Linked DNA regions of Homo sapiens: region 2 is linked to region 1. Evidence: fine-mapped expression QTL. A gene starts in region 1. The other region holds a variant in brackets. All regions are shown on one strand. Distances are between the middles of the regions. Region 1 holds the start of CHMP7 (charged multivesicular body protein 7). Region 2 has its middle 19 kb from the start of SLC25A37.

Region 1 (15,296 bases):
GCCGAGATTGCACCACTGCACTCCAGCCTGGGTGACAGAGCGAGACTCCGTCTCAAAAAAAAGAAAAAAATAATAATTCTATCCCCAAGAACCTGTATTTTTAGTTTGGGGAATAAAATGCTTAGGATAATTAGGAGAAAGAAGGTAGGAGGGGAGAAGAGAGTGGAAGAAAGTGAAATGGGGAATGTCTCAGACCTTATTTACAAAGAAATCTTAAAGAAAATCCAAAGACAATAGGGAAGACAAAAAAGGAAAAAAAAAAAAAAAAAAGACAACAGAGGAAATTTTAGCCTATGACGGCCGGGCACGGTGGCTCCCACCTGTAATCCCAGCACTTTGGGAGGCCAAGGCGGGCGGATCACGAGGTCAGCAGTTTGAGACCAGCCTGACCAACATGCTGAAACCCCGTCTCTACTAAAAATACAAAAAAAAAAAAAAAATTGGCCGGACATGGTGGCGCATGCCTGTAATCCCAGCTACTCAGGAGGCTGAGGCGGGAGAACTGCTTGAACCCAGGAAGTGGAAGTTGCAGTGAGCAGAGATCGAGCCACTGCACTCCAGCCTGAGCGACAGAGGGATACTCCGTCTCAAAAAAAGAAAGGAAAAGAAAAAGAAATTTTAGTCTATGACAACAATAGCTACAGCACACAGTAAACACTCCGTAACTCCTAGTCAGAAATAAAACCTCCTACTAAAAGTTCTGTTTCACTAAATTCCTTTTATCCAATCCATCATGTTCATAATACAGGAAATAAACAGAATTGAAGGCAGAAATTTGCACTACTATAATAATAGTTGGAGACTTCAATTGTCCCACTTTCAAAAACAGAACCATCAGAATGAAGATCAATAAGGATGTAGCGTACTTGGACATCACTATATACTAATGGAAACTAAAAGACATAGAAAACAGTTCACCACAAACAGAAGCATACAATTTTTCTCAAAGATACATGGAATATTCTCCAGGATAAACCATAAGTTAGACCACAGAGTAATTCTTTATAAATTTAAAATAACTGAAAGTATCTCTTCTGATCACAATATGACACTAGAAATCAGTATCAGAAGGAAAAGAGTAAACTCCTCAAACATGTAGAAATCAACAAGCTTTTAAATAACCAACGAGTCAAAGAGGAACTCATACAAGAAATTAGAAAAGATCTGGAGATAAGTGAAGCAAAAAACACAACATACTAAAACTTATGGGATGCAGTAAAAGCAGTGCTAAGAGGAAATGTTATCATGGTAAATGCTTATATCAAAAAGGAAAAAAGACCTAAAATAAACAATCTACACATTAAGAAACTAGGAAAGGAAGAATAAACTAAATCCAAGGTAGCGGAAAGAAGGAAATAAAAAAAAATAGAGGAGAGATTATTTTAAAAAGAGAATAGGAAAACAGTAAAGAAAATCAATAAGCCCAAAAGTTGATTCTTTGAAAAGATTAACAAAATGGAGAAATCTTTGGCTTGATTTATTAAAAAATAAGAATCCTCAAATTACTAAAATCAGAAATGAAAGTGGGACATTATTGCTGATTCTACAGGAATAAAAAGGGTTAGAAGAGAGTACTATGAAAAAATGTATGCCAAAAAAACACATTTATCTAGCTAAAATGAACAAATTCCTAGAAACACACAACCTACCAAGACTGATTTATAATGAAATAGAAAATTGGAACAGACATAACTGGAAGGAGATTGAATCAACAATCAAAAACTTCCCTGGACCAGATTTGTGTCCAGCCAAATATTTAAAGAAAAATCGGCTGGGCACGGTGGCTCATGCCTGTAATCCCAGCACTTTAAGAGGCCGAGGTGGGCAGATCACAAGGTCAAGAGATCCAGACATCCTGGCCAACATGGTGAAACCCCGTCTCTACCAAAAATACAAAAATTAGCCGGTCGTGGTGGTGCACGCCTATAGTCCCAGCAACTCGGGAGGATGAGGCAGGAGAATCGCTTGAACCCAGGAGGCGGAGGTTGCAGTGAGCCGAGATTGCGCCACTGCACTCCAGCCTGGCGACAAGAGAATGACTCCGTCTCAAAAAAAAAAGAAAAAGAGAAAAATCAACCCCAAGTTTTCTCAAAGATGTGAAAAGGAGGGAACCCTTCCTAACTGATTCTATGAGGCCAGAATTGTCCTTACACTAAAGTCAGGCAAAGATACTACAAGAAAGAAAACTACAGACCAATATCCCTTATAAATTTTGCTGCAAAAATCTTCAACAAAATAATAACAAACTGAAACTAACATTTACAGATTTTTATTATTTATTTATTTATTTATTAAAGACAGTCTTGCTCTGTCAGCACGCTGGAGTGCAGTGGTGTGATCATAGCTCACTGCAGCCTTGAACTCCTGGGCTCAAGTTATCCCCTTCCCTCAGCCTCCCAAGTCACTGGGACTTTAGCTGCCTGTCACCACGCCCAGCTAATTTCTTGTTTTTTTTTGTAGAAATGGGGTCTTGCTATGTTGCCCAGGCTAGTCTCAAACTCTTCGGCTCAAGCAATCCTCCTGCTTCGGCCTCCCAAAGGGCTGAGATGATAGGTGTGAGCCACCATGCCTGGTTCTGAATCAAACATTTAAAAAAGTATTATACACCGGTCGGGTGCAGTGGCTCACGCCTATAATCCCAGCACTTTGGGAGGCTGAGGCAGGTGGATCACCTGAAGTCAGGAGTTTGAGACCAGCCTGGCCAACATGGCAAAACTCCATCTCTACTAAAAATACAAAAATTAGGCTGGGCACGGTGGCTCACACCTGTAATCCCAGCACTTTGAGAGGCCGAGGCTGGTGGATCACCTGAGGTCAGGAGTTCGAGACCAGCCTGACCAACATGGAGAAACCCCATCTCTACTAAAAATACAAAATTAGCCGGGCCCGGTGGGCATGCACCTGTGATCCCAGCTACTTGGGAGACTGAGGCAGGAGAATCACTTGAACCCACGAGGCGGAGGTTGTGGTGAGCCGTGATCGCACCATTGCACTCCAGCCTGGGCAACAGGAGTGAAACTCCATCTCAAAAAAAAAAAAAAAAAAAGAGCCAGACGTGGTGGCTCACACCTGTAATCCTAGCACTTTGGGAGGCCGAGGCGGGCGGATCACGAGGTCAGGAGATGGATACCATCCTGGCTAACACGGTGAAACTCCATCTCTACTAAAAAATAGAAAAAGTAGCCGGGCGTGGTGGTGGGCACCTTAGTCCCAGCTACTCGGGAGGCTGAGGCAGGAGAACAGCCTGAACCTGGGAGGCGGAGCTTGCAGTGAGCCAAGATCGCACCACTGCACTCCAGCCTGGGCGACAGAGCAAGACTCTATCTCAGAAAAAAAAAAAAAAAAAAATTAGCCGTGCTTGGTGGCAGTTGCCTATAATGCCAGCTACTGAGGAGGCTGAGGCAGGAGAATCACTTGAACCTGGGACGGGGAGGTTGCAGTGAACTGAGATTGTGCCACTGCACTCCAGCCTGGGCAAAAAGAGTCGAGACTCCATCTCAAAAAAAAAAAAAAAAAACGGATTATACACCATAATCAAGCGGGATTTATCGCTGGAATGCTGACATGGTTCAACATATGAAAATCAAAGTAATACAGCACATTAACAGAATGAAGGACAGAAACCACATAATCCTCATCTCTTTTTGTTTGTTTGTTTTTGTTTCTGGGACAGCGTTTCACTTTGTTGCCCAGGCTGGAGTGCAGAGGCTTGATCATAGCTCACTGCAGCCTCCACCTCCTGGGCTCAGGCAAGCCTCGTCCTTCAGTCTCCCCAGGAGTTGGGACTATAGGTGTGCCACCATGCCTGGCTATTTTTTTTTTTTTTTAGTATAGACAAGGTCTCCTTGTTGCCCATACTGATCTCAACTGATGCAGAAAAAGCATTTGACAAAATTCAATACTGTCTCATGATAAAAATGCTCAACAAACTAGGAATAGAAGGAAACTAGATAGACATAATGAAAAACATATTTGAAAAATGAAAACCAACATAAGGATGAAAGACTAAAAGATTTTTGTCTAAGATTAGGATCAAGACATGGATGCCTGCTTTCACCACTTCTATTCAAGATAGTACTAGAAGTCTTAGAGCAGTTATGCCAGAAAGAGAAATATGCTCATTCAAATTTGAAAGGAAGACATAAAATTATCTCTATTTGCAGCTGCCATGATCTTATACATAGAAAACCCTAAAGATTTCACAAACATTTATTAGAATGAATAAACAAATTTGGAAAAGTTGCAGAAAAAATCAATACACAGAAATCAGTTCCTTTTCTATTCACCAACAATAAACAATCTGAAAAGAAAATTAAGAAAGCAATTCCATTTACAATGGCATGATAAAAATACTTAGGAATAGACTTCACCAACAAGGCAAATAACTTGTACACTGAAAACTACAAAATGTTCCTGAAAGAAATTAAAGAAAACATCAATAAATGGAAGGACAGTCTGTGTTCATGGATTGGAAGACTTAAGATGCCAACACTACTCAAAGCAATCTACAGATTCAATGTGATCACGATCCAGATACCAATGATGTATTTTTGCAGAAATAGAAAGATCCATCCTAAAATGTATATGGAATCTCAAGAACTCTAAACAGCCAAAACAACCTTGAAAAAGAAGAACAAAGCTGGAGGATTCATACTTCCTCTTTTCAAAACTTAACTAAAGCTATAAGAATCAAAGTAGTGTGCTACTGGCAGAAAGACAGACATATAGACCAATGGAATAGTATAAAGTGCCCAAAATTAAACCCTCACAAATACGGTCAAATGATTTTTGACACAGATCTCATAACCACTTGTGTTAGGCCATTTTTGCATTGCTATATGGGTAATTTATAAAGAAAGGTTTAATTAGCTCATAGTTCTGCAGGCTGTACAAGCATAATGCTGGCATCTGCTTGGCTTCTGTGAAGCCTTAGGGAGCTTTTAGCTTTTATTCATGGGGGGGAAGGTGAAGTGAGAGCAGGCACATTATTTGGTGAGAGTGGGAGCAAGAGAGAAAGGAGAGAGATGCTGTAACCTTTGAAATGACTAGATCTTGCACGAACTAACTGAGCAAGAACTCACTTATCACCATGGGATGGTGCTAAACCATTTGTATTAGTCTGTTCTCATGCTGCTAATAAAGACATACCCAAGATGGGATAATTTATAAAGTAAAGAGGTTTAATTGACTCACAGTTCCACATGGCTGAGGAGACCTTGCAATCATGGCAGAAGGCAAAGGAGAAGCAAAGGCACATTTTATATGGCAGCAGGCAAGGAGAAGTGCAGAGCAAAGAGGGGGAAAAGCCCTTTATAAACCATCAGATCTCATGAGAACTTACTCATCATCATGAGAACAGCATGAGGGTAACCACCCCCATGATTAAACTACCTCTCATTACAAATCAAGATGAGATTTGGGTGGGGACACAGCTAAACCATGTCATTCCACCGCTGGCCCCTCCCAAATTTCATGTCCTCACATTTCAAAACACATAATCATGCCGTGGCAACAGTCTTAACTCATTTCAGCACTAAATCAGAAGTCCAAGTCCAAAGTCTCATCTGAGACAAGTTAAGTTCCTTCCACCTATGAGTCTGTAAAATTAAAAGCTAACTAGTTACTTCCTAGATACAAGGGGGTATAGGCATTCAGTAAATACACCCATTCCAAATGGGAGACATTGGCCAAAACAAAGGGGCCACAGGCCCCATGCAAGTCCGAAATCCAGTAGGGCTGTCATTAAACCTTAAAGTTTCAAAATTATCTCCTTTGACTTGATGTCTCACATCCACGTCATGCTGGTGCAAGAGGTGGGCTCCCAAGGCCTTGGGCAGCTCTGCCCCTGTGGCTTTGCAGGGTACACCCCCTTGTCCTGGCTGTTTTCACAAGCTGGTGTTGAGTGTCTGTGGCTTTTCCAGTTGCATAGTGCAAGCTGTTGGTGGATCTACCATTCTGGGGTCTGAAGGATGGTGGCTCTCTTCTCATAGATTCACTATGCAGCACCCCAGTGGGGATTCTGTATGGGAGCTCTGACCCCACATTTCCCTTCTGCACTGCCCTAGCAGAGGTTCTCCATGAGGACTCCACCCTGCAACACACTTCTGCCTGGACATCCAGGCATTTCCATACATCCTCTGAAATCTAGGCAGAGGTTTCCAAACCTCAATTCTTGTCTTCTGCACACCTGCAGGACCAACACCATGTGGAAGCTGGCAAGGATTGGGGCTTTCACCCTCTGAAGCCATGACCCATGCTGTACATTGGCCCCCTTTAGTCATGGCTGGAGTGGCTGGGTTGCAGGGCACCAAGTCCTAAGGCTGCAAACTGCAGGGGGACCCTGGGCCTGGCCCAGGAAACCAATTTTTCCTCCTAGGCCTCCAGGTCTGTGATGGGAGAGGCTGCCATGAAGACCTCTGATATGCCCTGCAGACATGAAGACATTTTCCCCATGGTCTTGGTGATTAACATTTGGCTCCTCATTACTTATGCAACTTCCTGCAGCCAGCTTGAATTTCTCCTCAGAAAATGAGATTTTCTTTTCTATTGAAATGTCAGTCTGCAAATTTCCCAAACTTTTATGCTCTGCTTCCTTTTGAATGCTTTGCCATTTAGAAATTTCTTCCTCCAGATACCCTAAATCATGACTCTCAAGTTCAAAGTTCCACAAATCTCTAGGGCAGGGGCAAAATGACGCCAGTCTCTTTGCATAGCAAGAGTGACCTTTACTCCAGTTCCATCAAGTTTCTCACCTCCATCTGAGACCACCTTAGCCTGGATGTCATTGTCCATATATCACTATCAGCTTTTTGGTCAAAGTTATTCAACAAGTGCCTAGGAAGTTCCAAACTTACCCACATCTTCCTGTCTTCTTCTGAGCCCTCCAAACTGTTTCAACCTATGCCTGTTACCCACTTCTGAAGTCGCTTCCACATTTTTGGGTATCCTTTGTGAAAGGAAAATATCTTGGGCCCCCAAAATCACTAAGCTAAAGTGAAAATTCAAGCTGGGAACTGCTTAAGGCAAAACCTGACTCCCATTCTATTCAAAGTTATCCCTCTGCTCACTGTGATAAATGCATATCTGATTGTCTCCTTTGGAAAGGCTAATCAGAAACTCAGAATAATGCAACCGTTTATCTCTCACCTATCTGTGACCTGGAAGCCCTCTGTGATGATTAATACTGCCTGTCCACTTGATTGGATCGAGGGATGCAAAGTATTCATCCTGGGGGTGTCTGTGTGGGTGTTGCCAAAAGAGATTAACATTTGAGTCGGTGGGCTGGGGAAGGCAGATCCACCCTTAATCTGGTGGGCACAATCTAATCAGCTTCCAGTGAATATAAAGCAGGCAGAAAAACATGAACAGGAGAGATGGGCCTAGCCTCCCAACCTACATCTTTCTCCTGTGCTGGCTGCTTCCTGCCCTTGAACATGAACGTCTGACTCCAAGTTCTTCAGTTTTGGGACTCGGACTGACACTCCTTGCTCCTCAGCTTGCATACAGCCTATTGTGGGACTTATGATCGTGCAAGTTAATACTTAAGAGACTCCTCTTTATATATATCCTGTTAGTTCTATCCCTGTAAGATAACCCTGACTAATACATCCCTTTTCCGCTTTTAGTTTTCCTGCCTTTGCTTCAAGTTGTCCTACCTTTCCAGACCAAACCAATGTACTTCTTACATATATTGATTGATATCTCATGTCTCCCTAAAATGTGTAAAACAAAGCTGTGCCCTGACCTCCTTGGGCACATGTCCTCAGGCCTTCCTGAGTCTGTGTCATGAGCACACGTCTTCAGCTTGGCAAAATAAACCTTTTTTTTTTTTTTTTTGAGATGGAGTCTTGCTCTGTTGCCCAGGCTGGAGTGCAGTGATGTGATCTCCGCTCACTGCAAGCTCTGCCTCCCAGGTTCACGCCATTCTCCTGCCTCAGCCTCCCGAGTAGCTGGGACTACAGGCACCTGCCACCATGCCCGGCTAATTTTTTGTATTTTTAGTAGAGACGTGGTTTCACCGTCTTAGCCAGGATGGTCTCGATCTCCTGACCTGGTGATCTGCCCACCTTGGCCTCCCAAAGTGCTGGGATTACAGGCGTGAGCCACCGCGCCCGGCCAGCAAAATAAACTTTCTAAATTAACTGAGACCCGTCTCAGATATTCTGGGCCCATATTTAATAACCATAAAGGGATTCTGAGTGGAATGCTCCCCACCTCTGACAAATCTAGCCTCTGACAAGCTAGATTTGACAAGCACCTATTGGTGCTTGGTACCAGCATGAGCTTACTTTATGGCTCAAACCTATGGGACAATTTGCTGAGGTCTGAGAGCAACCCACCCCTCACCCCTCCGCCCCACCAAGAGAATTACTATCTTCCCAAATTTGGTTGAAATCTAAAGTTTATTTTGCTATACAACTTTTTTTTTTTGGAGTTTTACTTGCTTCCAACAAGAAAGGCAAGTTTTCCTGCTTCCATGATGATGGAAGATAGGTAACTCCTTTATGGAGTTTGAGCTCACTTCCAACAGGGAAGGTGAGTTTGTTGTTGTTGTTGTTGTTGTTGTTGTTGTTTTGTTTGTTTTTCTGCTTCTAGGATGGTAGAGAGTGGTCTACAGCCTGAGATCCATTCCTAGATAAGCAACTGAATTGGGGTTTATCTTGGCTAAAGTTAAGATTAAAAACCAGCTGGTCTTTATTTCTCCTTACCATTACAGTGCTCAGGAATTATGTTAAGTTGTGAGATTGTTTGTTTTGCTTAACTTTTTTGTTGTTGTTGATGTTTATTTGTTTCTGTTTTTGTTGTTTCAGTCTTTCTCCCGTTGGGTTTGACCAACTCTGTCCAACTCAATCAAATCCGAAGGAAAGTTCCAAATTATGAGGAACAAGGCCTCTAAAGTGGCTAAATTCCCATACACAAAAAAAGGTGGTATAGTGAGGGGAGAAAAACGGCCAACAAAAGAAAAAAAATAAATAAAAACTTTTTTTTTTTTTTTTGAGACGGAGTCGCTCTCTGTCGCCCGGGCTGGAGTGCAGTGGCGCGATCTCGGCTCACTGCAAGCTCTGCCTCCCGGGTTCACGCCATTCTCCTGCCTCAGCCTCCCGAGTAGCTGGGACTAAGGCACCCGCCACTACGCCTGGCTAATTTTTTTGTATTTTTTGGTAGAGACGGGGTTTCACCGTGTTAGCCAGGATGGTCTGGATCTCCTGACCTGGTGATCTGCCTGCCTCGGCCTCCCAAAGTGCTGGGATTACTGGCTTGAGCCACCGCACCCGGCCGGCAAGAAAAATGTTTTATTTTTATTACTTAAGGGGTTTTATTTACATAACAAAGCCTCCTTTTTGCTAACCAGGCCAAACTGAAAGCAATGGCTGTCCCCCTACTCTGCAGTTCAATAGCTAAGGTTCTGCCTTTTTTTTTCTCCTGTCTTCATGACAGCCTAAGTTTGGTTCCTAAATCAAGTCCTTTCTGGTTTGATAGTTGGTACTTCTGCTTTTTTTTTTTTTTTTTTTTTTTTTTTGAGACAGAGTTCCGTTCTTGTTGCCCAGGCTGGAGTCCAATGGCGTGGTCTCAGCTCACCGTAACCTCCGCCTCCCGGGTTCAAGCAATTCTCCTGCCTCAGCCTCCCGAGTAGCTGGGATTATAGGCATGTGCCTTTTGAATTTCTTAGTAGAGATGGGGTTTCTCCATGTTGGTCAAGCTGGTCTCGAACTCCTGAGCTCAGGTGATCCACCAGCGTCGGCCTCCCAAAGTGCTGGGATTACAGGTGTGAGCCACCGCGCCGGACCAATACTTGGTACTTCTGAAATAGCAGCAATTTGTCCTAGCTGAAATATAATAATAAAATTTTGAATTTTTTTTTTTTGAGACAGAGTCTTGCTCTGTCGCCAGGCTGGAGTGCAGTGGCACGATCTTGGCTCACTGCAAACTCTGCCTCCCGGGTTCAAGCGATTCTCCTGCCTCAGCCTCCTGAGTAGCTGGGACTACAGGCGCGTGCCACCACACTCGGCTAATTTTTGTATTTTTAGTGGAGACGGGGTTTCACCATGTTAGCCAGGATGGTCTCCATCTCCTGACCTCATGATCCGCCCGCCTGGGCCTCCCAAAGTCCTGGGATTACAGGCATGAGCCACTGCACCCAGCCCAAGATTTTTTATTTTTAAAGACACTCAATAGTTAAAAGTCAACTTAATTAAAAGCTAATATTTAAAATGTATGTGTATGTGTATGTGTGCATAAGTGCATGTTCATATTTAAAAGGCCTTCATGGTTTTGTTTTTGTTTTTCTCTGCTAGGACCTTGTCTTTTTTTGAGCAAAAACTTTTTTTGTTCTCAATTGACTCAATTCTGTTTCCACTCGATTTTTTTTTTTTTTTTTACTAAAATAGTTATTGCAACAGAGGCTACTCTTGGGTTTTTAAGAAAGAGTATAGTTTAGACACTTAGAAATGCTTTGTTTACAAAAATGTTTTAAGTGCACTGTAAAAGCATCATGTGGTCTAGCCTCATAATAATTCTCCCTTTTTGGAGACCCAGGATTCAGTGTGGGCTCTGCCCAGAGCTCAGAGATCCAGTTAAAAAAGAATTGGTAGTCCCTATCTAAATAACAGTGGTCTCCTTATACAATCCAGTGATAAATTTCTATAATTTTATGTTCAATTGGCAATTAAATCTGTTTTAATTTCCCTCTAGCTCACAGAATTTCTCTTCAGACCTTATAATGTAAATTTTGCTATCTGACTTTCACCTGAGTTGTTTCCTTTAATATGCAAATTTAAGACTATTTAGCTGACTACTGCCTAGCACTGTGAAACAGGTTATCAAGAATCTGAAAGTCTAAGATAAAGAAAAAAGGTTTTTATGAATCTGTAAGATGTACTTCTTCTATCAGCATGCCTAATACATCTATGTATTTATATGTTATGTATACAATGTTGCACTCCTGAAAATATATCAAAGAGCTCTAATTAATTGTCTTAAAAAATAAAAGCATTTACATCAAATACTTTATTAGAAAAAGGAAAGACTAGTCAAATGCTTTTTCAAGTTATGTGACTTAAGTAAAATCTTTAATAAATAAGCTATCTTTAAAATTATTGGTAAAGTAATATTAGAAATGTCTTAGGAATTGCCAGCATACATTTTTATTTGCGTTTATTAATCAAGCAATTTCATACTTAACCCTGCCAAATACTATTAGGTGTCAAAATTTGGCACAGGCTATAAACCCAGCCCAAGACAGAATGATCTCTGCTCGTGTAACCATTAATAAATAAGACATTGATACTGGTTTAATGAAAATAGCTACATCTTGATTTAGTAAAATTACCATAACTTCTAATCTTGTGGCAGTCTAGGCAGTCTAGTCCACAGGCAGTAAGGAGTTTTGTTTTGGGAAAGGACTGTTATACTTTGTTTCAAAGTTAAACTATAAGTAAACTTGCATGGGAAGAGAATGTTTAATTTTGTGAAAAACGACCAAACTGTCTTCCAAAGTAGCTCTTAGAGACAACCTGTCCACAGAAGAACGCAGCAAGCCCCCTCCCCTAAATGCCCTGCAGCTTATTTCTTCTGAGATGCTGCCCCTACTTCACGTTACCAGAACTTAGGTACAGCTGTATCCACCCCCAGGCCAAACCACATCCTGGTACTCTAAGCCAGGTGGGGCAAGAAGTGACAAACAACTGCAGGATGTAGACTAACCTCAGAAAGCCCCTAGGCCCTCAAAGCCCTATATAAGTCCCTCACCTTAAACACCCTGGGCTGCCTCCTCTGACTGTTATGCAGCAGGCCGGCAGGTCAATAAACTTGCTTGCCTGACTTTGAGTATACTCGTCTTTTCTCTTGGCCAACCTTACGGTAGCTGTACCAGTTTGCATTTCCACCAGCAATGAATGAGAGTTCCTGTTGCTCTGCATCCTCACCAGCATTTGGTGTGGTCAGTATTTTGGATTTTCACCATTCTAATAGGTGTGTAGTAGTATGCTATTCTTGTCTAATTTGCTGTTCCCCAATGACATATGATGTTGGGCATATTATCATATACTTATTTGCCGTTGGTAGATCTTCTTTGGTGAGAGGTCTGCTCAGATCTTTTATCCATGTTTTAACTGGGTTATTCTTTTTCTTTTTTTTTTGAGTCTTAAGAGTTCCTCGTGTGTTTTGGATAACAGTCCTTTATCAGAGATGTCTTTTGCAAATAGTTTCTACCAGTCTGTGGCTTATCTTCACATTCTCTTCACAGTGTCTTTCAGAAAGCAAATAATAATAATAATAATAATTACGTCTAATTTATCAATTATTTCTTTCATGGATTATGCTTTTTGTGTTGTATCTAAAAAGTAATCATGATGCCCAAGGTCATCTAGATGTTTTGTCTTCTAGGAGTTTTATTGTTTTGTGTTTTTACATTTAAGTCCATGATCCATTTGAGCTGGCTTTTGTGAATGGTGTAAGATCTGTACCTGGATTTGTTTTTGTTTTTGCATGTAGGTGTACAGTTGTTCCAGTGCTCATTGTTGAAAAGACTCTTTGAACCATTGTATTGCCTTTCTTTTTTCGAAAGGTCAGTTGACTGTATTTACATGTGCCTATTTCTGGGATTCCTATTCTGTTCCATTTATCTATTTGTTTATTCTTTAACTAATACCACACTATCTTGATTACTGTTGATTTATAGTAATTCTTGAAGTTGGGTTGTATCCGTCCTCTGACTTATTTGTTCAATATTGTGTTGGCTCTTCTGGGTCTTTTGCCTTTCCACATAAACTTTAGAATTAGTTTGTTGATATCCACAAAATAACTAGCCATGATTTTCACTGGGATTTCACTGGATCTACAGATCAATTTGGGAAGAATTGATATCTTGATAATATTGAGTTTTCCTGTCCATGAATATAAAATGCCTCTGTATTTATTTAGTCCTTCATAGATTTCTTTCATCAGAATTTTGTAGTTTTCCTTATGTAGAATTTGTACATACCGTGTTAGATTTATACCTAAGTTTTATAGGGGGGTGCTAATGTAAATGGTATTGCATTTTTAATTTCATATTCCACTTGATCATTATAGGTATATGGGAATTGACTTTTATACATTAACTTTGTATCTGCAATCTTGTTCTCATTGCCTCTTAGTTCCAGGACATCGATTTGGCAATTCTTTCATAATTTTCTGCATGGATAATTATGTCTTCTATAAAGACAGACCATTTTATTTCTTCCTCTTCAGTCTGTACAACTTTTATTTCTTTTTCTTGGCTAACTGTGTTAGCTAGGATTTCCCGTACAGTGTTGACTAGGAATGGTGTGAGCAGACATTCTTGTGTTATTCCTGATTCCACTGGAAAACGATCTAGGTTTTCACCATTAATTCTTATGTTGGCTGTAAGGTTCCTGTTTATGTTCTTTATCAAGTGGAGGATGTGTCCCTCTATTCCTAGAGTGCCGAGACTTTTTATCATGAGCTGGTGTTGGATTTTGTCAAATGCTTTTTCTGCATCTAGCAATATGATCATATGATTTTTCTTTAGTCTGTTGGTGGATTATATTAATTGATTTTTGAACATTGAACTAGCCTTGCCTAGCTGTAATAAATTCCGCTTTAACCTGGTGTACAATTCTTTTGATACATTGTGGGTTTCAATTTGCTAACATTCTATTGATGATTTTTGCATCTATATTCACAAGATATATTGTTTTGTGTTTTTTCTTTCTTGTAATGTCTTTGTGTGGTTTTGGCGTTAGGGTAATCCTTGCCTCATAGGATCAGTTGGGAAGTATTCCTTTTGTTTCTATCTTATAAAAGAGATGGCACAGAACTGGTACAACTTTTTTCTTAAATATTTGGTAGAACTTATCAAATGAAACCATCTGGGCCTAATGCTTTCTGTGTGGATGTTGTTAATTATTGATTCAATTAATTAGATATAAACATATTCAAGTGGTCTGTTTCCTCTTGTGTGTTTTGGCAGAGTGTGCTTTCAAGAAATGTGTCCATTTCGTCTAGGTTATCAAATTTGTGGACATACAGTTATTCATAGTATTCCTTTATTATCATTTTCATGCCCATGGGATCTGCAGTAATGTCCCTTATTTCATTTCTGATATTGAGTATTTGTTTTTTCTCTTTGTTAGCCAGGCTAGAGGTTAATCAATTTCATTGACCTTTTCAAAAAATCAGCTTTAGGTTTTGTTGATAATCTTTTGAGTTTGTTTTCAATTTCATTGATTTCTGCTCTTTTTATTATTTTTTCTCTTCTGTTTAATTTGATCTTAATTTGTTCTTCTTTTATAGATTCCCAAGGTGGAATCTTAGGTTATTTTAGATCTTTCTTCTTTTCTGGTTTGTGCATTCATTGATATAAATTTCCCTCTATACAGAGATTCACGGATCCATCCGGGTGGTCCGGGCACCACTGGCGCCCCTCTGCGGCTATTCCCCAGTTCCATTTTCTGAAGCCACAGGTCAGAAGCCGCTGTACAACGCTTTGCCGAACTCCAGAATCTTGAAGGAGACGTAAGGTGCAGCCACCTGCCGCGCAGGCGCAAGCCTTTCTTTCGGCACAAAGACCGTGGGAGGAGGGGTCGGCGCAAGCGCTCGGTGTCTCTCTGAAAAGAACTTCATCATACTGCCTCCTGGCTGACGGAGCGCAGCGCAACGCATGCGCCTTGAAGACTTATGGAACTTATTTCACGCTCAGGGCGGCGGTGACGTGTGAACGAGAAGGAGGTGGTCAAGGAACGGAAGCCGGGAGGGAACGAGGGCGGAAGCGGACCAGGGCCAGGCTTGTGTTCGCAGCCTTGCCGGGGCTGGGGTTCCGATGTGGTCCCCGGAGCGGGAGGCCGAGGCCCCAGCCGGGGGAGACCCGGCGGGCCTTCTGCCCCCCGAGTGGGAGGAGGACGAGGAGCGCATGTCCTTCCTGTTCTCCGCTTTCAAGAGGAGTCGCGAGGTGAACAGCACCGACTGGGACAGCAAGATGGGCTTCTGGGCGCCGTTGGTGCTGAGCCACAGCCGCCGCCAGGGGGTGGTGCGCCTGCGTCTGCGGGACTTGCAGGAGGCCTTTCAGCGCAAGGGGAGCGTCCCGCTGGGGCTGGCCACGGTGCTGCAGGACCTGCTGCGGTGAGGGGCGGGCTGGGGCCAGGGCCGCGAGGGCGGGCGGGGGCAGCTCTCGGAGGGCCGGGCCCTGGTCCTGTTCTCTGCACAGCGCACTGCGCCCAGCCCAGTGTCTGGCCCAGAGAAGGCATCCAGTGTGTGTTCAGAAGGCGAAGAAGGAAAATAAGGAGGCTGGGCTAGGG
Region 2 (15,296 bases), 270 kb after region 1:
GGAGGAATATTTAACGGAACGATGTTCATGTTGTTGGAATGACTGTCATTTATTTGATGTTGTTTTATTTGATTTTTTAAAATGGTGTACACTTTCAGTAAAAGAAATTGAGACTAAGTCTAGAATGTTAAAGAACTGAAGCAAATTTGGGGCTCCCGAGTGCCTTGGTTTCTCCTTGATCTACCCCCTAAGCACTCAGCTTTTGGCCTGGGGAACTTCTCTAGACAAGCATTGGGTTTTGTGGGCTCTGTGACAGTGTAAAGGCCCACTAGTGCTGGAAGAATTGGTTGAGGCGTGCAGTATGGCAGCTGGTGGCATTCCTGGGAACTGATCACTATCAGATGGCTTCTGTTCCAGCTCCTCTAGACCTGGCACTGTGCAAGGTACTGAACTGTGAATCAAGTCCAATACAATTGCGATCCCACCCTCTGGTTTCCAATAAACATAAGTTCCAGGCACAGGTGCCCAAGAGCTGGCCAATAACACCATGGTATTGAGAAACTCTCAGTCTTTTGGAACAGGCTCTGTTTTCTTCTCCGCTTCTCTTCCCTATTTCCCTCCCCTGTCCTCCCCATCCCCCACCTACAGATAGGCCTGAAACCAATACAGTTTTCAAGAGGAGAGCCTTTTTTTTTAAGAAAAAAAAAAAAAAAAGTTTAAAATTAAGAAATCAAAGACCAGGTGCGGTGGCTCATGCCTCTAATCCCAGTACTTTGGGAGGCCGAGGCAGGCGGATCACGAGGTCAAGAGATCAAGACCATCCTGACCAACATGGTGAAACCCCATCTCTACTAAAAAAAAATACAAAAAAAAGAAAAAAAAAAAAACTACTCGGGAGGCTGAGGCAGGAGAATTGTTTGAACTTGGGAGGCAGAGGTTGCAGTGAGCTGAGATCATGCCACTATGCTCCAGCTTGGGTGACAGAGTGAGATTCTGTCTCAAAAAAAAAAAAAAATTAAGAAATCAAATTTAAGTATAGGACCTTGAAAGGGATCATGTATGTAAGGGGTCTGAGCTTAAGCTTCATATGCTTCATGGTAAATCTACCTCTAATTCTGACTTTGGTTTCTCTCATTTGCATGAATTTTCTTTTAGGTTTTTTTTTTTTTTTTTTTTTGCATATTTCTTTCGTTTTTTCTTTTGAGACAGATTCTCACTCTGTTGTGCAGGTTGGAGTGCAGTGGCATGATCTTGGCTCACTGCAACCTCTGCCTCCTGGGTTCAAGCGATTCTCCTGCCTCACCCTCCCAACTAGGTGGGACTACAGGCGTGCGCCACCACACCCAGCTAATTTTTGTGTTTTTAGTAGAGACGGGGGTTTTTACCATGTTGCCCGGGCTAGTCTCAAACTTCTCAAGTGATCCGCCCACCTCAGCCTCCCAAAGTGCTGGGATTACAGGCATGAGCCACTGTGCCCAGCCCGCATATATATTTCTAAACTGTGTGAAATATTGCCTTACAGATTTTAAACCAGTATGTAAATGGCACCCTGACATTTTAACACAATTTGTTTTTTACACTCAATTCTTTACTTGGGAAATATATCCATGTTGATATACTAAGATTTGGTTTCTTTTCATTGCTATGTAATATTCCATTGTGTGACTACCAGAATCACTCTATTCTCCTGTTGCAGTTTTTCAGTAAAAATAGCAGGTTATAAGACAGAAGCAGGATGTAAACACACACACACATTTTCGTGCTGTAGGGCAGTTAAATTAGCCCCATTTTGTTGTAATATTAGAATAGAATTAGGTCAATAAAACATTATTCCAAAAAAAAAAATCCAGAAACAACACTACAAAAATGGAATGTGATGCAGGCAACGTTTCGAATCAGTGAGGGAATATGGACTATTTAATAAATGGTATTGGCCGGGTGTGGTGGCTCATGCCTGTAATCCCAGCACTTTGGGAGACTGAGGCGGGTGGATTACCTGAGGTCGGGGGTTCAAGACCAGCCTGGCCAACATGGTGAAACCCCATCTCTACTAAAAATACAAAAATTAGTCTGGCATGGTGGCAGGCGCCTGTAATCCCAGCTACTCGGGAGGCTGAGGCAGGATCATCACTTGAGCCCGGGAGGCGGAGGTTGCAGTGAGCCGAGATCACGCCATTACACTCCAGCCTGGGCAACAGATTGAGACTCCGTCTCCAAAAAAATAAAAATAAAAATAAATAAATAAATAAATAAATAAATAAGTGGTATTGACAGAATCAACTCTGTGTACACAAAATAAATAAAACTAAGTCGCTACCTTATGTGGTACACAAAATTATACTACAGATGAATTAAAAACCTAGCCCTTCAATATAAAAATTTCAAATTGTTAGCTAAAAATGTATAAGAAAATACTATGATCCCAAGTAAATGGAGATCTTAAATAAGTCACAGAAAATAAAACTCATGCAGTAAAAGGCTGAACATTTTAATTAGGTCAGTGAATAAATGTCATCCAAATAGTAAAAAAGGAACCATACAATAAGATACCCCAATGTTAAAGACAAGCTGAGGGCTGGGAGAAAACTTTGCAATGTATGTTTCAAAGAATGAGTAAAACAGATGAATTTTTAAAAAAGCCCTTTAGAAAAATGATCTAAGGGATGGGCACAGTGGCTTACACCAGTAATCCCAGCACTTTGGGAGGCCGAGGCTGGTGGATCACCTGAGGTAAGGAGTTCAAGACTAGCCTGACCAACATGGTGAAACCCTGTCTCTACTAAAAATACAAAAATTAGCTGGGCGTAGTGGTGGGCACCTGTAATCCCAGCTACTCGGGAGGCTGAGGCACGAGAATTGCATGAACCTGGGAGGCGGAGGTTGCAATGAGTGGAGATCTCACCATTGTACTTCACCCTGGGCAATGGATCGAGACTCCGTCTCAAAAAAAAAAAAAAGAAGAAGAAAGAAAAATGATCTGTGGATATGCATAGGCAATTCACAAAAGGGGAAATACACATGGCCACAAACACATAAGAAGATGCTCAAACACATTTTTTATCAGGCAAATACCAATGAAAACAATGGCGAGATACTGTTTACACTTACTCAGCTGGCTACCTTGAAAGATCTGGTAGGTGAAGGGTTGTCAAGATCGCAGGGGAACAGGAACGTTCATACTCTGTTTTCATATTTAAAATGGCGAGGACAATTTGGGCATACCTCAGACCCACAATTTCCTCTCACAGGAATTTAGAATAGAGAAAGGGAAAACACAGACGTTTACTGCAGTGTTGTTTGTAGTAGTGAAAAGTTGTTAATGATATTAACTGTCCGCTAAAAGCTTAAGAGGTCAAATAAAATATGGTATATCCATATAATGGAATGTTATTCAACACACAAAAATCCTTATATATATTATTTATATGTGAAATTATATATGTGTATACATATATATACATGAATGCATATGAAATTCTGGAAGGAAACACTTCAAACTCCCAAGAGCGGTTGGGCACCAGAATAGCAGGGAAGGGTTTGGAACTGTGGGAGGTGGTCAATGGGTAATTTAGTTTTGTATATGATGCCTGCTTTTGTTTAAAAGGGGCATGTATTTGTGTATCTCTTTTTCAATCAAAAATAATTTAAAATATAAAAGACTGGAAGGATGCATTGTACGTTCACAGTCCTATCTCTTGGGAACGAAATTATCAGTGACTTTTAGCTTGTTCTTTTTTCTTATCTGCATTTTCTAAAATTTCCACAATGTTTGTCTACCACATTTGTAATAAGAAAACTGTTATTTTTTAAGGATTATGGAAAGTTTAAAAAATTCTCAAAAAGTTAGTTTTAGGTTATCTTAAATATACTACCACTCTCTCCTCCATCACTTAGATAAACAGCACTGTATTTGGGAGGGGTGGCCGGTTTTTTATTTTTTTGAAGTTTGAGACAAGGTCTTGCTCTGTCACCTAGGCTGGAGTGCAGAGGCACAATCATGGCTCACTGCAGCATGGACCTCCCAGGCTTAAGAGATCCTCTCATCTCAGCCTCCCAAGTAGCTAGGACCGCAGGCATGCACCACCACTCCCAGCTAATATTTATTTTTGATTTTGGTAGAGATGGAGTCTCCCTCGGTAGCCCAGGCTGGGCTCAAACTTCTGAGCTCAAGCAATCCTCCTGCCTGGGCCTCCCAAAGTGTTGGGATTACAGGTGTGAGCCACTGTGCCTGGCTTGTGTGGCAGCTTTTATTGCAAAATTAGATAACTCCCCAAACTTTGGAAGTATTTTTTTAAAAAGCTTCCAAGATTCACTTAGCCAAGGCTGCTCACGGGGTTTAAGTAAATGGCTCTTCCACTTTTCACTGATGTTCTATTAACCAGCATACTCCAAGGATTTGACTCACTGACAATAAATATTTAACTCCAGTTAAGCATAGCTACTTTCTGGAAATGTGTCTTCTTAGATAGCTGAGGGTTTATCCTTTTAAATTCTTTAAAATTTTTACGTTGTAATAATTTCTAGAATATTTTACCTACTTTCCTGCCTCTGAACACAGAGCATCTAGTTCTAGCCTTCTCAGCCTTGCCATTTCTGAAGGCTGTCATGTATTTATACTGTCAGTATCTGCCTTCAAGCACCATTTTTTTCTTCCAATTCACCGTGGGTTTAGAAATTAACTTTTTGGGTTTGTTTATACAATAATCAGCATGACAGCTCATACCAGAGGATTCCCTAAGATCAAAGAACACACAGACTTTACGAAATCTATTTTGGCTGTTTCCCAGCCCTTTTTGTTTGTTTGTTTTACTGCTTTCTGATTTTCAGTGGTGTTCTGAAGTGCTGGCTTCAAGTTTGGGAGGCAGTAGAGGGTAGAGAGGAAAGAACAGCTTCATTCCTTGCTAAACTGTGATCTCTCTAAGGTCAAAAGTTGTGCCATGACCCCAAGGCTCTTGTTAAAGAAATTAGATGCCAATAGATGAAATGTGAGAATAGCGCTATATTGAAACAGAAACTGGAGTCATACAGTATCTTCTATAAGATTTTGTGATTTTATACAAGAATTCCCCAAGACAGATCAGGTGATTATTAATAACCCCTGAAAGTCACAACTCTATGCAGCTGAGAAGGTAGGAGCCCAGGGAGGTGTGTGCAGAGCTGAGGCTGTCATCATAGACCTATTCTTTGCAAAATCTGAAGGGGGAGGGAAGGGAGAATGTAAAACTGGGCTGCAAAGCTCAAGTCTCACAAATAAGGACTTTTCTTATTTGTATGTCACTTCATACTGCGATAACCAGGCAGTAACATCATGGGTGGTGATTCACAACTGAGTTCCAAGCCTCTGAGTCCAGGAAGTTATGGCTTATTAGATGTTATCACTTCACTGGGAGGGGATGATGATCAGATGTAATAAAAACACAAAGGATGAAGATTCCAAATTCCTTTAAGAAGGAGAGCTTTCCTTCTCAAGAGTGCAGGGCCTGGGCAAATTGCTCCTATGGCAGGTACATGCAACAAAAGCTCAGAGCAAAATAGTAAAGAAAAAGGGGTTGGCCTGTTTATAGGTCTCCTCCAGGGTCCGCCATTCATTCTGACAGATGACAGCTCCTCATGAGTCAATGTTATGCAGGAGACTCGAGGACGAAGCACAGGAGTTCGGGAGAGATGAGCTGTCCATGTCTCTGAGCTTTTCCATCACTCTGTGCCTCAATGTCCCTTCAATAAGGCAAGTTTCACCCTTTGCTCTGCAGGAAGGCAGAAATAAATGACTGTGCTCGAGGAAGTACTTAGAGTCAGCAGGGGGTTGTGTGAGATCAGAGTATAGCCTTGTCTCCCCTAAAAGGCCTAATCCTGAATGGGGGAGTCAGGTGACCATCCTCTTTGGGGTATAGTTCATTCTGGTGCTTGACTTCCACCATAGGAGATTTGGAACACCCATTGCGAGGGCATTCAGAATGTGCTTGAACTCCTGGAATATTGGTCCTGGAAAGGGCCTTAAGGTTCAGTTCCCTCATTTTCTAGACACAGAAATGGCGGCCCAGAGAGGTGGAGGAATTTATTTAAGATCACACAGCTATTCCCAAATCCAAGCCTGCAGATCATAAGCCTGGTACTCTCTCTACAGACTTTCTCAAAGTGGGGTCCCCTGATACTGCACCTCAGAATCACCTGGTGTGCGTATGCGCGTAAGGGAGATGTTGGTAGTGGTGAAGAGAGTTGCTAAAAATGCGAATTCCTGGGTCCTACCTTAGACCTACAGAATCAGAATCTCTGGGAGTGGTCCCTGGGAATCTGTATTTTAGCATCAAGTGACTCTTAAGCTAGTCCTGCTTTATTTCAGCAACACCTGGAAGTGCTGGCTTCTAAATGATCTATGCAGCATAGCTATCGTTGATGAAACGTCTCCTAGAGAACATAAAAAGAGCATATCCTATTAGTAGCCACTGGACAATGCCATGTCCTCGATTGTTTACAGTGTATGATAATTAGTTTAATGTCCTATAAGCCAAAATCATACCAGACAATGTTTTGAACAATCAAAGCAAGCTGGAGAAACAAACATACCTCATATTGGCCCTTTAAGAGCCTCGGTTCCCCTGGGTTCTAATGAGGGTGTGTGCTGGGGACAGGTCACTCCCAGCTTATCCTACCATACCCACCACCTCTCTGAGAGATCTCGCTCCGTACATGCGGCTCTGGCCTGAGAGCAGATGGTTTCCGATATAGGACTGAACCCGCCCTCTCTCTAATCAACCAGAAAGGACCTGGCAAGTCAGTGGGAGATAAATATAGCTGAGCTCTCCTGGGAGGAGCCCCCAGGAGGGTTAAATATGGTATGTGAGCAAATGATGAACAGATCAGCGCTTCCTCCTACTGTCCCCCGAAGGTCGTTTTCACAACAGGATCAGCTGCACAACACTCACAAAACAGAAATGGACTCAAAGATAGAAACTCCAAAACCGGCTGGATTCCTGTTACTCCATAACAGCTGGCCCCTCAGGGAGGACTTGCCTCTTGGGTGGCCGTGTACCTGATTCTCCCACCTGCCTTGCAGCTTGTCCTTGCCTGCCTCCAGAGGCTTCCGTGGAGTCAGAGCCTTTGAGGCCCTCTCTTGCTCTTATGTCCAGGTAACATGGAGCAAAGATAGAGCTGAATTTTAAGAACCGCCCTGTCAGGGGAAACCACTCATTAAAGTCAAACTCCTTGGCCGCAAAACCGCAGGTGGGGGTAGAACAGGACCACAGAGGTTGCCTTCATCCTGCACGTATTTACTTTTTTCAAAGGTCATCTTTTGGCTTGAGAAGAGGAAGGAAAGCACTGTTATTTTAATTTCTCTAAAAGTTACAGTAGAAAGCAAAACCAGAGGCACCAAAAAAGCAATTCCCAAAACTCAGCTCAGTGCCCTCCAACACAAAGTGTTCAGATAACATTTCTCCAATAAATAAGCCGCTCTGGGGGTGCAGCCACTGAGGCAGGGCCGCTTCCTGCTGGGTAGCATGGGTGGCCTTTGGTGACTGCCCACACATTGTGCAGGGTGTGGACCAAACAGACTCAGAACTCTGCTTTTGTTGGTGCCCTGAGAGTACTTTGATCTCTCAGGGCCTGGTTCATATTTATCAAACTCTGAAGATTAATGTACGGAACTAGAGTTCCAACCTGTTCGTGAATTTACAGTGAGGAATAAATAACCGGGCTCCAGAGCCTGGACACATTCCCTCTCTAAAGGGAAAGCATTGTAGAAACCAAAGCGTGGCCTAGATGGTTACCTGATGAGCACAAAGCCACACTCAGGGAAAACTAGATAAATCAGGCGTTTCGCAGCATCAGTATAAACAGTAGGGCATTACACACCTGTCCAACCAAAGGCCACAGGATACTGGCATGCCACCTGTGCTCACAAGCCCTGTGTGTCCCAGCTCCAGGAGGCTGTCAGCAGATGGGACCTCTGGGCCTTGCTAGGGCTGTGTCCTTTC[C/T]GATCTCTGTGGGGACAGGCACTGCTGAAGTCTCTAGGTGTGACTCTCCTTTTACTCCCAGACTTCAAGACTCTTTTTCACGTACCCATTTTTATTTCCTTCTCTAATGAAGCATTGCTACTTGCAATCCATTATCAGTCAGACTTCATGCGCCTGAGTATCCTCCTCTCTCTTTGAGGTGGCTATGCAGCTCCGATGTACTCTATGCAAACTCTCAGCTTTGACCGTCAGAGGAAAGCCAAATTTCCCTCATTGCCAGGGTTGAGAGAGGCACCACCCCATGGCCCCCTAAGTACTAACTGATAGCAGTTATAAATCAGGCTTTGAGGAACGAAGACCGGATTGGGGATTTTTGTTGTGTTTGCCTTCTTCTCTCCTATGCTCCCAGTGCTCTGGTGTATAGTTCAAAGAGCTCTGATGGGTATTGGCCGAAACCTCCAAATGGAAGCTAAGGAGGCCACTGTACTGAGAAAATTCCTGAGTAGAAAAGTGCAGTGGGCACAGCTGTGGCCCATCCTGTCGGTGATCATTCCCTCTCTGGTATGGTTAGGCTCTGTGTCCCCACCCAAATCTCATCTTGAATTGTAATCCCCAGGTGTTGAGGGAGAGACCTGGTGGGAGGTGATTGGATCATGGGGGCAATTTCCCCATGCTGTTCTCATGATAGTGAGGGAGTTCTCATGCGATCTGATGGTTTTATAAGGGACTCTTCCCCCTTCGCTTCACACACACGCTCTCTCGCCTGCTGCCCTGTAAGACATGCCTGCTTCCCCTTACGCCATGATTGTACGTTTCCTGAGGCCTCCCCAGCCATGCGGAACTGTGAGTCCATTAAACCTCTTTTCTTTCTAAATTACCCAGTCTCAGGTAGTATCTTTATAGCAGTGAAAGAATGGACTAATACCTTCTCCTCCCTTTCTTGGTCACTAGCAGGGACTATCTGGGCTGCCTGAGGAGCCTCTTGTTTGGTTTGGGAACAGAAAATTTCAGCCTGGGAGATCCAGCACGTGGCAGCAGAGCGAGGGTTACCCAGGAGTCACAAGGAACACAAAGCAGAATCAGAGGGAGGTGACAATCAGAGAGCAGCTCAAACCTCGTGGGGTGCTTATTAAGTGCTTAATACTTACAGAATGACTTATTGACTGACTAACTGAATGAATGAATGAGTACCTGAATAGTTGGACCATCTCATTTTACTAAGGAGAGCTGGAGCCATAGAAGGAAGCTGATTTGCCGCAAGTCCCATAGTCGAGCAGTGGCACCTGGGATGGGTTTGTAGGTGACATGAGTCCTAGCTCTTTTGTTGTGATATCGCAATGATGGCAATTGGATAAATGAGGGACAACAGGGTGGAGAGAAGGAAATAAGGGTGAAAACTAGAAATCCTATAAAAAGAGTAAAATGATTTTGAGTCCTCTTATAGAAGAGTTTCTATAGAGGTTGAGTTTCTTGTAGAAGAACTTGATCAGCGCTGGCTCCAAAGCTTGCCCTTGTCTTGGCCCTTGATAGCACACCTTCTGTACTCCTCCCACCCCCATCCACCCCAGTCAAGCATCTTCCTGGAGAAGGCACCATTATTTATTTCCTTTCTTTTCTATCTTTAGTCCCTCCCCTCTCTATGCCCCATAGGTGACATGTATGATCAGCATCTCATTCTAAGTAAAATTTTCACTAGATGTAACTCCCTTATTTCTCTTTTATACTTCAGCATCAAACTCCTAGAAAAAAGTGCCTAAGCTGGGCATAGTGTAATCCTAGCACTTTGGGAGGTCGAGGTGGCAGATTGCTTGAGCCCAGGAGTTTGAGACCAGCCTGAGCAATGTGGTGAAACCTCGTCTGTACTAAAAATACAAAAAAAAAAAAAAAAAAAAAAAAAATTAGCCGGGAGTGGTAGCACATGCCTGTAGTCCCAGCTACCTGGGAGGCTGAGGTGGGAGGATTGTTTAAGTCCAGGAGGTGGAGGCTGCAGTGAGTCATCATTGCACCAGTCTGCACTCCAGCCTGGGCAACAGAGTGAGACCCTGTCTCAAAAAAAAAAAAAAAAAAAAAAAAAAAGAGCCTAGACCTGCGCTGTTTAATATGGTAGTCACTGGCTCCATGTAGCTGTTAATCACTGGAAATATGGCTAGGCTGAATTGAGATGTGATGTAACTATATATAAAATATGTACTGACTTCAAAGATAGCATGAAAGAAGAATGCAAAAATCTCATCAGTAATTATTTTGGATAAATTGGGTTAAATAAAATATATTATTAACATTAATTTCACCTTTTTCCTTTTACATTTTTTAAGGTGGCTACTAGAAAGTGTAATATTACATAATGTAGCTTGACTTCTATTTCTACTGTCTAGACTCTGCTTCAAAGCACCAACAGACCATATCAAACACAAAGCACGGTGCTCCTGAAATTAAAATGGGCACTGGGTTTATGGAAGCGCTTGTGTTCTCAAATCATCATTTACAACTGCCTTTTAAATGAGGGAGCGCTGAGGTTTTGACATGGGAAATTGTGATGAAAATAACAAGGTAACTTACTTGTTAATCAGGAAATTGGGCTCTGAAAGGACAGTGATGGTGCCGCCAACATTGGCCCAGTCTTTATGTCTCTCATGAGACATCCTGGCCCAGTAATGTTCTCTGAGGCTGGGCATGTGCCTTCCTGAGGACAGTTAGAGCCTTCTGTGACCAAATAGGATGCCCACAAAGCATTTGATGCCCCAAGCAGAGGAGGAAAGAGTGGGGAGGGAGCGTAGAGTCATTGAGGAGCCCCTGACAGCAGGAAGGACCTGAGCCCTGATGCCGGCTCTGCATGGTCTTGTGTGAGTCACGGAACCCTCTCGGTTTCCCCATCAGTGAAATCCATGCCCTGTAGCTTGGTGCTGTCTCTGGAGTTTCTGCCCTTCTTTCTTACATTTAGAATGTGGCAGGCCTTGAGCAAATTGCTTGAGAACTCTAAGCCTGGGTTTCCTTGTAGGTAAAATGAGGACTATGATAGTGATGACTCGGGGAGTGGTAGAAAGTCAGTGATATACTTCATACTTAACATAGTTACGACATACTGAGTGCTCAACAAATGTTCAAAACAGACAACTAAAAACTCAAAAATTAAAAAGGACCTGAAGGGCCAACCTGTCTAACTCCCACCCAAATTCAAGAATGTCCCTATATTTTCTTTAACCTCTGCCTCAGCTCATTCGCTGCCATTGTCTCACAGGGCAGAGCCTTATTTGTTTGCTGATTTTTTTATTAACCCATTTAAGCCTAGAGTTCCGTAATTGCAACGCTAAGCATGTGGGAGTTATTTATATCCTACTGCTCAAGGTCATCACCAAGGTCTGCAAAAATTCCAAAAATTGCATAACCTCAGGCATAAATGGGTTAAAAATTTAATTTTTCCATTATTTATTGTGGTAAACGACACGCAACATAAAGTTTACCATTCTAACGATTCTTTTTTTCTTTTTTTTTGAGATGGAGTCTCACTCTGTTGCCCAGGCTGGAGTGCTGCAGTGGCTCGATCTCAGCTCACTGCAACCTCCGTCTCCTGGGTTCAAGTGATTCTCCGGCCTCAGCCTCCTGAGTAGCTGGAATTGCAGGCACACACCCCAGGCCCGGCTAATTTTTGTATTTTTAGTAGAGACAGGGTTTCACCATGTTGGTTAGGCTTGTCTCAAACTCCTGACCTTTTGATCCACCTGCCTCAGCCTCCTAACGTGCTGGGATTACAGGCGTGAGCCACAGCACCCAGCCTCTAACCATTCTTAAATGTACAATCAACCGGCATTAAGTACCTTCATGTTGCTGTGCAACCATCACCACCACCATCTTTAGAACATTTTCATCTCCCCAGACTAAAACTCTGCACCCATTAGCACTAACTCCCCATTCTCCCACTCTCCCAGCCCCTGGTCACCCCTACTCTGTTTTCTGTCTCTATGAATGTGACTCTTTTAGGTACCTCATGTGAGTGCAATCACATATTGTCCTTTTGTGACTGGCTTATTTCACTTAGCATCATGTTTTCAACGTTCATCCATGTTGTAACATATGTCAGAATTTCATTGCTTTTTAAGGCTGAATAAAATTTCATTGTATGTATAGAGCACATTGCGTTTATCCATTCATCTGTTGCGAGGCCCTTGGGTTTTGAAATTTTTAGTATTTCTAACTACTAGTTCCTTCTTATAGGGAACTGAAATCTGCCCTTCTAGGACTTAACTCTCACCCCTCAGCTCTGCCCTCAGGCCCCACTGCACCAGATGAGTCCTCTTCCCACAGGAATCCCTGGATTTGAAGGGAGATCCTGAATTCCCACCCCAACTCTTCAAAGGCTGAGAAGTTTCACTAACTATTCATAAATTGCAGACTCATTGCCTTTGTGGTTTAAGTCTTCAGACCCACTTCAGTGGACTGATGTCTTTTTGAAAACGAGTCATCGTAAACTGAGCTGACCTGTACCCTACGCTGGAGAAATTGGGATAAATACAATATATTATTAACATTAATTTCACCAGTTTCCTGTTACATTTTTTAAGGTGACTACTAGAAAATTTAAAATTATGTATGTGGCTTATAACAGCCTCTCTTATCTTGACACTTTATTAATGCAGCTTAAGAACACATTCTCCTCTTTTTGGCAGCCATATTTCATGGATTTATTTATTAAACAATTTTTATTAAGTGTCCTGAGAAGATGAGGCACTTCAGCGTAGTAGTTTAGAACTTGAGCTCTGGAGCCAGATTTCCTAGGTCAGAATCCAAGATCCATCTCTTGCTGTGTGCCACTGTATACATTTCCTAAATTTTCAGGGCCTCAATTTCTTTATCTATAAAGTAGAGATAGCAGTAGTACCCACCTCATTGAGTAGTTGTGAGGGTTAAATGAATTAGTGCCTGTAAAACACAGATGAGTGCCTGGCACTTAATGCATGTGCTATGTCTCTCTACAGAGCACTGCCCCAAGGTGTTGGGGGTACGGCAGTCAGCCAGGCTGACCGGCTATGGGCTCTTTGTGGTTTGTAGTCTAGTGAAATGGTCAAACCATTACGTGACAACTGGAATTTATTCATGGGCAAAGGTGTAATGAAAAGATAGTTTTTGTTTGTTTGTTTGTTTGTTTGTTTGAGATGGAGTTTCGCTCTTGTTGCCCAGGCTGGAGTACAATGGTGTGATCTCGGCTCACTGCAACCTCTGCCTCCTGGGTTCAAGCGATTCTCTTGCCTGAGCCTCCTGAGTAGCTGGGATTACAGGCATGTGCCACCATGCGTGGCTAATTTTGTATTTTTAATAGAGACGAGGTTTCTCCATGTTGGTCAGGCTGGTCTCAAACTCCCGACCTCAGGTGATCCACCCACCTTGGCCTCCCAAAGTGCTGGGATTACAGGTGTGAGCCACCACACCTGGCCAAAAGACAGGTTTTTATGTAGAAACAAACCTCTGTCAATTACATGACAGGATACAAAATCTTATGATGAGAGAATTCAGAGTGATACAGGAGTACCGAACATTTATCTGCTCATTTATAAAAAATAAATACTTTTTAGGTTTCTACCATGTCTTACAAACCTCTGTAGATTCTGGAAAGTATCCGTAAACAGACTGAAGTTCTGTCTCTCTTGAGACACATTTTTTGGGGGGAAACAGTTAATAAACACCAACAAATAAGCACAATAAATAAAACCATAAATAATCCAGTTAGACACTTAAAAAGACTATATACAGCTATACTGTATATTGGAAAGGAACACTTTGGAGGTAGAGCTGGCATGATTCTTGACTGATGGAATTTTCTGTGTGAAAGACAAGGACTTAAGAATGACTCCAGGGTTTTCGGCTTGAGCAACTAGAAGCAAACCTGTGAGGTCAGCATGTCTTCCCAGAGGAGGTGACATCTAAATGGGGACTGGAAGGACGAGTAGCAACCATCCAGGTGAAGAGAGCCAGGGAAAATTGTTCTAGGAGCTGGAGTTTGTGCCAAGCTTGGGGGGCGAGGACAATGCCATGTGAAGTTTTATCTGCTTAGGAGTGCTGAGTCTCGTCCAGTAATTCCCTAATGTTTAGGATTTAAGGGTAAAATTTTATACTTTTAAAGATTTTAAAAATAATTTTGAGGCCAGGCGCAAGGGCTCACATCTGTAATCCCAGCTCCTTGAGAGGCCGAGACAGGTGGATCACCTGAGGTTGGGAATTCAAGAGCAGTCTGACCAACACGGAGAAACTTCGTCTTACTAAAAATACAAAATTAGCCGAGCATGGTGGCAGATGTCTGTAATCCCAGCTACTTGGGAGGCTGAGGCGGGAGAATCGCTTGAACTCTGAAGGTGGAGGTTGCGGTGAGCCGAGATGGTGCCACTGCATGCAGCCTGGGCAACAAGAGCGAAACTCTGTCTCAAAAAAAAAAAAAAAAAAATTGAATTTTAACATTCTAAGAAGTGACTCCCCCTAGCTTTGTCTTCTAAGAGGTTGATAAATCTGCATCCCAGGACTTTTTCTAGTAGTTGATTAAAAAAAAAATAGTTGAGTTGAACCTAAGTCAAGGACAGAGTCCTTTGTCCCACCCCCTTCCTGCTGATATTGTCACCATTAATCAACCCTCCTGGGGTGCAGCAACAAATGGACCCAAGTATCATAAAATTACACGGCCTGCATTTCTCCAGCTTACTCCTTAATAACAGCCCTAAGAAGGAAGGGAGATAAGATATCTGAAAGTGCTGGAAAGTTATCAAGTTGCTATTTTTTAGGATGACTTGGCCACCAACTTCCAGGAATGGAGAGACACTGAAACTAAGGGAGTTCACTGCTCTCCTAGGACAGTGACAGAAGGACAGAGGGGAATACAGCAAAGCTACAAGAAGGCACTCTGTGTTTCTACCTGTGTAAATGTGCTCGACTGTAACACCCTTGTGCCTGGGTGAGTGCACAAGCCTTTTAAGAGAAACATAGTTTATTTGTGCCAAATTGATCAATTTTGAGAGCCTGCTAATGCCCTTAAAGTAAGTTTTATGGATGTGACACAATTGATGGGAATTTGAATTGATCTATATCTTAAAATTAAGTTCATTAAACTGAGCAAATCATGTTCATGTCCTGATTTTATATACTTGCATTTATCAAATAGATTTTGATTTTTGGAAAAAAAAAAAAAAGGACAATTTTTTTTTTTTTTTTTTTTTGAGACAGAGTCTCCCTTTTGTTGCCCAGGCTGGAGTGCAGTGGTGTGATTGCAGCTCACTGCAACCTCCACCTCCAGGGTTCAAGTGATTCTTGTGCCTCAGCCTCCCTGAGTAGCTGGGATTACAGACGCCCGCCACCATGCCTGGCTAATTTTTGTAATTTTAGTAGAGATGGGGTTTCACCATGTTGGCCAGGCTGGTCTTGAAC

What was found.
Region 2: its variant is fine-mapped to the expression of CHMP7 in whole blood (TOPMed, PIP above 0.99).

Annotation. Positions count from the first base shown.
Region 1 is chr8:23,231,875-23,247,170 of GRCh38, forward strand. CHMP7 (charged multivesicular body protein 7) reads left to right here and starts at 11,763. Exons shown (of 11, transcript NM_152272.5): 1 at 11,763-11,970; 2 at 14,382-15,120. The coding sequence starts at 14,822. RefSeq lists enhancers at 11,455-11,956, 14,526-14,775 and a silencer at 14,796-15,296.
Region 2 is chr8:23,502,263-23,517,558 of GRCh38, forward strand. No RefSeq gene overlaps it. Among named protein-coding and RNA genes, the nearest start is that of SLC25A37, 19 kb to the right of the region's middle. RefSeq lists a cis regulatory region at 6,361-7,217 and an enhancer at 6,745-6,974. The variant C/T (reference allele first, on the strand shown) is at 7,914.